2 separate regions of the Homo sapiens genome follow, and region 1 is linked to region 2. The links come from fine-mapping of genetic effects on gene expression. A gene starts in region 2. The other region holds a variant in brackets. All regions are shown on one strand. Distances are between the middles of the regions.

Evidence for each region. PIP is the estimated chance that this variant, and not a neighbour inherited with it, causes the effect. A credible set is the group of variants that fine-mapping cannot tell apart.
Region 1: its variant is the best candidate, but not a certain one, in a credible set for the expression of GPLD1 in subcutaneous fat (FUSION, PIP 0.87).

The regions. Positions count from the first base shown.
Region 1 is chr6:24,539,103-24,543,497 of GRCh38, forward strand. LOC124901277 (a long non-coding RNA gene) reads right to left here and starts at 950. Exons shown (of 2, transcript XR_007059507.1): 1 at 913-950; 2 at 1-578. It also overlaps a transcript of KIAA0319 not described here. RefSeq lists an enhancer at 1-664. The variant A/G (reference allele first, on the strand shown) is at 2,038.
Region 2 is chr6:24,487,203-24,491,597 of GRCh38, forward strand. It overlaps GPLD1 (glycosylphosphatidylinositol specific phospholipase D1), which reads right to left and starts at 2,376. Exons shown (of 25, transcript NM_001503.4): 1 at 2,213-2,376. The coding sequence starts at 2,309.

The sequences.
Region 1 (4,395 bases), 52 kb after region 2:
GGCGCTTACTGAGGTCTGCAAAAACTTCTCAGCTCTTCACTGTGAATTTTCATGGGGATTCTTTTTCTTCTGCAGTTTTTTCTTCCTTGCCTCTTCTTGAGGTATGTGTTCCTGTTCCAGTTCCAACAACTCCTCATTAGTCAGTTCCTCAGGAACCACCTGTAGGAGCTCCTCAATGTCTTCTTCTTCCACCCCCAGGTTAAAATTGTTTGCCATCTCAACCACAGCCTTGTTGGTTTTTGCAACCTCCTTGTCCTTGGCAAATCCTTTGAAATCACGGATGAACCTCTTGAGTGTCTTCTTCCAGATGTCATTTATACGTTCCTTGGTAACATCACCCCAAGCCCAAGCAAGGGTCCTGATGGAGTCGTAGATGTAATCCTTTCAGAATTGCATCAGCGTCTTCTCCGTGTCTTCCTTTGTTGCAGTAATAACCTGAGCAAAGCTGCTCCTCCTCAGGCAGTGGGCCTTAAAAGCTGCTGTAACTCCTTTACCCATTGGTTGGTAATCCTTAATCTCTTGTTTCAAGATCAGTCACTTGATGTGGCCTCTTACTGGCAACAATAGCCGTGGATTTTCTATGACAAAGGGACCGTGATGAACAAAGCAACACGAGATTAATTGAAGCACAAGAGAAAATAATGCAATCAAGAGGCACAGTAAACAAGACACGTTTATACTGCTGGTATAACCCAGTATTTCTTTTGTTTTGTTTTGTTTTGTTTTTGAGACAGGGTCTCACTCTGTAATTTAGGCTGGAGTGCACCGGCACCATCACAGCTCACTGCAGCCTTGACCTCCTGGGCTCAAGAGATCCTCCTACCCCAGCCTCCTGAGTAGCTGAGACTACAGGCATTCGCCACCACACCCAGCTAACTTTTAAACATGTTTTTTATAGAGATGGAGTCTCACCATGTTGTCCAGGCTGGTCTCAAACTCCTGGGCTCAAGCAATCCTCCAGCCTCAGCCTCCCAAAGTGCTGGGGTTACAGGAGTGGGCTACTGCACCCAGCCACATACTGTTTTACAATAAACTGTTTTTAATAAGTAGAAGGAGTACACTGTAAAATAACAATGAAAAGTACAGTATAATAAATACGTAAACCAGTAGCATAGTCACTTATTATATACTGTACATAATTGTATGTGCTATACTCTTATACAACTGAGAATGCAGGTTTGTTTACACCAGCATCACCACAAACATGATTAATGCATTGGGCTGCATTGGACTTTATGATGGCTACGACATCACTAGGTGACAGGAACTTTTCAGCTCCATTATCTCATGGGTCCATAAATCATATATGCAGTCCATCACTGACAGAAATTTCACTATGCCAGGCATGACCGTATAAGCCTATGTGCTCTCTTCCTGCTGCAATAAAGTCTCAGTCCTGCAACTCTGGGTTCATCATCTTTAGGAGAATGGAGGTGATAATACTCTCCATGTAGGCTTCAAATAAAGGAAGCTTTGCTGCTTGCTAATCTCAACTCAACAAGAGAGGCTCTAGGGACCAATTAGTTGGAGAAATGGTGACTTTGTTTCTTTTTTTTTTTTTCCTTTCTTAACTTTGTTCCTGATTTTAATGGAAATGCTTATTTTACTGTTGATATGTGGATCTGGCCTTTCCTTCTCAACATCTTTAAACTTTTAATTTTGAAATAATTATAAATTCATAGGAAGTTGCAAAGATAATGCAGAGTCCCGTGTACCCTTCACCCAGTGGTTCGCTTATTACCTATGTAATACAATTATCAAAACCAGGAAACTGATACCAGTGCAAAACTGTTAATCCAGGCCTTATTCCAATTTCACTCGTTTTTATGTGCACTCATTTGTATGTGAGTGTTTGTACACCTCTACCTAATTTGATCACATCAATAGTTAGATTTGTGTAGGCAGCACCTGAATCAAGATACAGAACTGTTTCATCTCTACCTAGGAAATCCCTGGCAGTACCTCTTCATAAATGACTTTGAAAGTAACTTGGCAAGATTGGTAGCTTTTTTAAACTTTCCTTTCACTATTATATAC[A/G]TGCAAAAAAAAAGGATACATAATTGAATAAGTGAATCGCTCAATGAATTCTCAGAAGACCGAGATCAAGGTGTCGGCAGGTTTGGTTTCTCCTGACGCCTCTCATCTTGGCTTGTAGATGGCCGCCTTCTTGCCATGTCCTCCCATGATCTTTCCTCTGTGCCTGCGTGCCCCAGATGTCTCTCTGCAGGTCCTAATCTCTTCTTCTAATAAGAAAACCAGTCGATTGGATTAGGACCCATCTTAATGGCCTCATTTTACTCATTTTAACTTAATTAATCACATCTCTTTAAAGGCTCTATCTCCAAATACATTTCAGGTACTGGGGGTTAGAGCTTCAACCTATGAATTTTGACATAACACGATTAATTTAGTCAGCTGGGCGCAGTGGCTCACGCCAGTAATCCCAGCACTTTGGTAGGCCGAGGCTGGTGGATCATTTGAGGTCAGCAGTTTGAGACCGGCCTGGCCAACATGGCGAAACTCCATTTCTACTAAAAATACAAAAATTAGCCCGTCATGGTGGTGGGCGCCTGTAATCCTAGCTACCTGGGAGGCTGAGGCAGGAGAATCGCTTGAACTGGGGAGGAAGAGGTTGCAGTGAGCCAAGATCATGCCACTGCACTCCAGCCTGGGTGACAGAGTGAGACTCCATCTCAAAAATAATAATTTAGCCCACAACACTGAAGGAATATTTTTTTAAATGCCTTTATTTTCTGGCTGGTCATGGTGGCCCATGCCTGTAGTCCCAGTACTTTGGGAGGCTGAGGCGGGCGGGTCATTTGAGGCCAGGAGTTCGAGACTAGCCTTGCCAACATGGCGAAACTCCGTCGCTACTAAAAATATAAAAAGTAGCTGAGTGTGGTAACACACATCTGTAATCCCAGCTACTCAGGAGGCTGAGGCACAAGAATCACTTGAACTGCCAGGAGGCAGAGGTTGTAGTAAGCGAGATTGCACCACTGCGCTCCAGCCTGAGCAACAGAGCAAGACTGTCTGAAAAAAAATAAAATAAAAATTCCTTTAGTTTCAGTAATGGAAAGTCATCCTTGTTGAAATTATAAAGATTTTGTTCCTTTACTTAGCCTAGTATTTGCTCTCTCAGTAAATACACAACTCTTACAGGATTGAAGATGATCCAGGAGCCACGTAATTAGTTTAACTACAATACCCCATTCCCATTCTCATACTTCAACAAGCATTTATCTCAACAAAATTATGTGAACAAATATGAACTTGAAAGAGCCAATCCTTTAAGATAAATCCCCATTGGTTAACTAGGCCTAAATTTAAAATAGACCTAAGTGGGACCTGGCACTGTAGCTCACATCAGTAATCCCAGCACTTTGGGAGGCAGAGGGAGGTGGATCACTTGAGCCAGGAATTTTTGAGACCAGCCTGGAGAGCATAGTGAGACTCCCCCATCTCTACAAAAAATTAGTCCACACCTGTAGTCCCACCTACTCAGGAAGCTGAGAGGTGGGAGGATCACTTGAGCCTGGGAGGTCCACACTGCAGTGAGCCGTGATGGTGCCACTGCACTCCAGCCTGAGTGACAGAGCAAGACCCTGTCTCAAACAAACAAAAAACACCTAAGTGAGCATTTGTTAACTAGATGTCACACACATGTACTGAGTTCCCCCCAAAACCCACACCTTTGTTCAGTTTGGGAACTCCAGAGTTCACCTGAACCAGTCAATCAGAGCTCACCTGCCTTAACCAATCAGGACTCAGATGTATCAACCAACCAGGCGTCATCTGTATCAACCAACCCAAACTGAGCTACACTGACCAATCAGAACTATGCAAGTTTCAATCCTTCATTTACATATGGACCTGATTGGAAACCTGGGTAGAATTTTGCTATAAATCCAGAACGCTTGCTTTGTTTTTTGAAACCCATCTTTGTTTTACACAGAAGACCATAACTCTGTGGTTTGGAAACTGTTCACGGCAATAAAGTCTCTTTCCTTCAAATTCCTTTTCAGAGAACTTCTGTTCACAGTTGCTAATGGAGTGAGTTAAAACAGCCTGGAAAGGAAGGAACTACTACCTGTTTGAGGGGAAAGCTCCATACAGTACTACCATATATGAAACTCCAGAAAATTCAAGCTAATCTCTAGTGATTGCCAGGGGAGAGGGGGATTACAAAGAGCCACGAGGAAACTTTTATGGGTAATTATGTTTGTTCAACAGCTTGATTGTGGTCATGGTTTCACAGATGTGCACACATATCAAAGCATCAAATTGTATTATGTGCAGTTTACTGTAAGTGAATTATACCTCAATCTGCATTTTTTTTTCTTTTTTTCTGAGATGGCCTCCTTCTGTGGCCTAGGCTGGAGTGGCCCAGTCTCT
Region 2 (4,395 bases):
TTACGCTGAATGAAGCCATTTCTAATTAACTCACTCAGATAATGCTGACCTTCCACTCAGGCCCCTTTATAAGAAATGAAAAAGTGAACCAAAATATTTATAAAATCATCTAATTTATTAGTAAATAAATGATGGAGTTTTGGTCTTCTTCTATGTAAAAAAATTCTCAGAATCCGTGCAGATTCTATTTCAGGAGATGCCTTCAATTATGTTCACATAAATATTATTCTTTAAATGTCCATTAGGACCTTTGTTTGGTACTTAATGAAGAAGGGCAAGCAATTATCTGGTTTTATTAAAATTTCAGATGCAATCTGTCTTGTAAATTTTTAAACACTAAGGATTAAAAATGGAGTATTTCCATTTATATTTGTTCCTCATCAGCTTACTCTGTAGTTTTGGCAATTTCAACTTCACAGAACATAGAACTGCAAGACACTTTAGAATTCTTTAAGAAGTTCAACCCCCTCATTTTATAGAATTGAGAGGTAGGTAAAAAGTGAATTGCTCAGAATCACACATCTACTTTACTGGATGGCTGGAACTAGAACCTAAGTCTGATCCTCTTTTCCATTGTTTCCTGACTCCCTTCTAGCAGTACATTTTTAATGGAAAGAACGCCGGACCAGCTGTCAGGACATGTAATTCTAGGCCAGGCCACTGAAAACTTAGCTGTAAAACTGTCTAGTATCAGTTTCTTCATCTGTAAAAGAAGAGAACTGGACTCGGTGACTTCTAGTGTCCTTTCAGATAGTCAAATTCTGTGATAACAGGTTCTTGCCCATCGTAGCTCAGTATATATGTCTATTTTGCACTGATAAATTTTCATTTTTTGCCTATAATCTTATTATTCTTTGAAACTTCTGGAGGTGGTACAACTATAAAATTCTGTTATAATTTTTATCTAAATTAAAGAAAACTCAGGCCAGGCGCGATGGCTCACGCCTGTAATCCCAGCACTTTGGGAGGCCGAGGCAGGCGGATCGCAAGGTCAGGAGATCGAGATCATCCTGGCTAACATGGTGAAACCCCATCTCTACTAAAAAAAAATACAAAAAAATTAGCCAGGCGTGGTGGCGGGCACCTGTAGTCCCAGCTACTCGGGAGGTTGAGGCAGGAGAATGGTGTGAACCCAGGAGGCGGAGCTTGCAGTGAGCCGAGATTGCGCCACTGCACTCCAGCATGGCGGACAGAGCGAGACTCCGTCTCAAAAAAAAAAAAAAGAAAACTCAGAACATCAGGTATATCTGAAATTAATCTGAAAATTGCTGTAGAATGTTATCACAGCTAATTCTATTACAAATTGACTCACGTTTTCCATGCGTTAAAACATGTTACAAATACACTTCATACAAGAACCAAATCCTTTTGCTAAGAAAGATCTTAAGTGTTCTCAGCCCATATGCAAAAAACATGGTAGCTATGTGGGGGGGGCGGATGTGTTAATTAGCTTGATTGTGCTAATCATTTCACAAGGCATACATATATCAACACATCATGTTGTATATCTTAAATTTATACAATTTTTGTCAATTATACATCAATAAAGCTAGAAAAATAAAAATTTTAAATAACTCTTTGTGGTGCCATCTCCCTATATCCAGGATGACTCTGCCCTTGCCCCTAAGGTCGGTGGCACTGGCTTGCTGTACCCTTCTGCTCTCCAACTCCTGCCATCTTCCTGGCACCGTGCATGTGGATAACTAAACTCCCTTACTTTCTTGACCTTCCTGAAGCCAAGCACTTTTACAGCAATTTGACTCAGGGACCCACTCCCATGGCCACATATGGCTCTTTACATATACTTGGAAATGCCTGTCCTTGGACATGTAAAAACAACAAAAGTACATTTCTCACTCCTGCCATATTCCACCCATCTTGTTCCTCTCCCATTCTGTCAGTTCTGCTGCCACGTTGCAACCTCTCGTTCACTGAGCCTCTCACTATTTCCCCACCCAGAGAAACACACAGGGGTCCCATGACCAATGGGGCATCAGCTCTCTTTCTTATTTGCCCCTTAACTGAAGTCATGCTGCCAATCCCTATCCCTGGATGACTGCAATCACCGGCTTCTCCTCCCTGCTGTCAGGCCACTCAGCTCAGTGCCCAGGGGAAACTGTATCAATCCACGAGCGGGATTTTCAGTCTCTTCCTTAATGTCTTTGACAGATGTATTGTCCTCTCAACAACATAACAAGACACCAGTACTTACCTATTTCTACGTGTGTTGAAAGGCCACACGGTGAACCTCTATGGCAGAGAGAACCCAACATGATCAGCAGGCCAGGCCACAACCTGAAAGCAGACATGATCTCATTGCCCACCGGCTTCTCTGGTGACGTGGGAATGCTCAGAGCTGCAGCAGCACTGGGACTCCAAAATCCAGGTGCAGACCCACCGCTTCTCTCTAAGCAGGTCACTGACCGAGGAAACCAAGCCTCATTTCAAAATAATATCGTTTTCCAATGAAGTCAACTGTCCAACTACTGTTTAGCTTCACCAGAACAGCAAACAAACTCTGTGCTCCTGGGGGGTGGGGTTGGGAGGATAAACTGAAATCTGAAAAGCCTTAGGCCAGAAGCACTGCATCTTCTGACCGAGGTTTTTTCTGGATTTCATTTTAACATGAAATTTGTGTAGAGATGCAAGCAAAGTTGTCTCCAGATATTTTTTGCTTTCTATAAAAAGGCTCACCTGTGCAGATAGTCAACATATTAGACCACCTCACCTTACAAGGGTGGATCTCTCATGCATCCTTTCTACACATTTATCAGGCTGTCCTGCTTCCTCCGCCTCCCAAGCCACAAGTGCTGGGAAAGTTTTATGGTAATCAGCTGGAACTGGCTTCCTTTTCAGTATTTGGCAACAGATACTGACACTTGTATGGGATTACACAAGAGCAGCCACTCCTGGTCTCTCTACCTCTGGCTGTTCTAATAGGGCTTATCCAGAGCCTGTTGCAAGGTCAGATTCCTGCAGCTGAAGCAAAGATGTCAATTCCACTTGGGAGGTGGAAGGAAGGGGGCAGATTTAGGGCCAAGAAACAGGGTTTGGAAAATGTTAAGCTCACGATATATTATCAGGTACCCACTTACACTTCATCCATGGGAAAAATTAAGCTCTTCATGAAACTGATGGTAATCTTAAAACACAAATTATGCATATTTTACATTAAAAGCAAGAGATGGGCTCCTAAAAGAGTGGGAGGAAATAGTATTCACTTCAGGTTTGCCAAATGAAAGGATGAATAGAAAGTGGGATGATTTGGCTGGGCGTGGCGGCCCACACCTGTAATCCCAGCACTCTGGGAGGCTGAGGCTGGTGGATCACCTGAGGTCAGGAGTTTGAGACCAGCGTGATCAACATAGTGAAGACCCCGTCTCTACTAAAAATACAAAAATTAGCCAGGTGTGGTGGCACGTGACTGTAGTCCCAGCTACTGGGGAGGCTGAGGTGGGAGGATCTCTTGAACCCAGGAGGTGGAGATTGCGGTGAGCCGAGATTGCACCACTGCACTCTAGCCTGGGTGACAGAGCAAGACCCTGTCTCAAAAAAAAAAAAAGAAAAGAAAAAAAGAAAGTGGAATGATTTGACAACAGTTGTCGCCCCAACAGTTTCCCCTGTAAGCTTAACACAGCCATGTGCACAGCCCCAAGGAAAGAAATCCCGCAGCTACCCCCAGACCTGAGGGGCAGTAGGCCCAGCTACTCCTGATTAGTCCAGAGGCCATATGCCTACGTGTTTTGTTTGGCTAACAGGATGTTTTATAAACTTAAATCAAGTTTATGAACTTTTTCTAAATGAGAAAATTCACGTAGAAATCTAGATTTCTGGCTCTCTTAAAAACAAAAGAACTGGCATCATGAACTGACGCTCCCATGTGACACGACAACCAGCTGCAGCCAAAGAGCCAGCTGCCCCCTGATAGAGCATGTCCTGCTCCTCCAGTCCCCACCATCCATGCAATGTGTGCAGGTTTCCACACCCCTTCTGGCCACCAGAGGCCTTTGAGTTTGCCTCCCTGTCACTCTGGGCCTTCTACAGACTGTGCGTGAGGGAGTCACAATTATTAATTGGGACTTTGGATATTGTCTCTCAGAACATCCAAGAGCAGTCAATCAATGGTTACAGGGGAAAAAAATACTGCTAGAAAAGATATCTAACCATATATAATACAACAAACCCATCCAAAAAGCACCAAAGAAATGGGTTCAGAACAGGTGTGGTGGCTCACGCCTATAATCCCAGCACTTTAGGAGGCCAAGGCGGGCAGATGGCTTGAGGCCAGGAGTTCAAAACCAGCCTGTGCAACATGGCAAAATCCCGTCTCTACCAAGAAAAAAACAAAAACAAAAATTAGCCGGGCATGGTGGCATGCACTTATGGTCCAAGCTA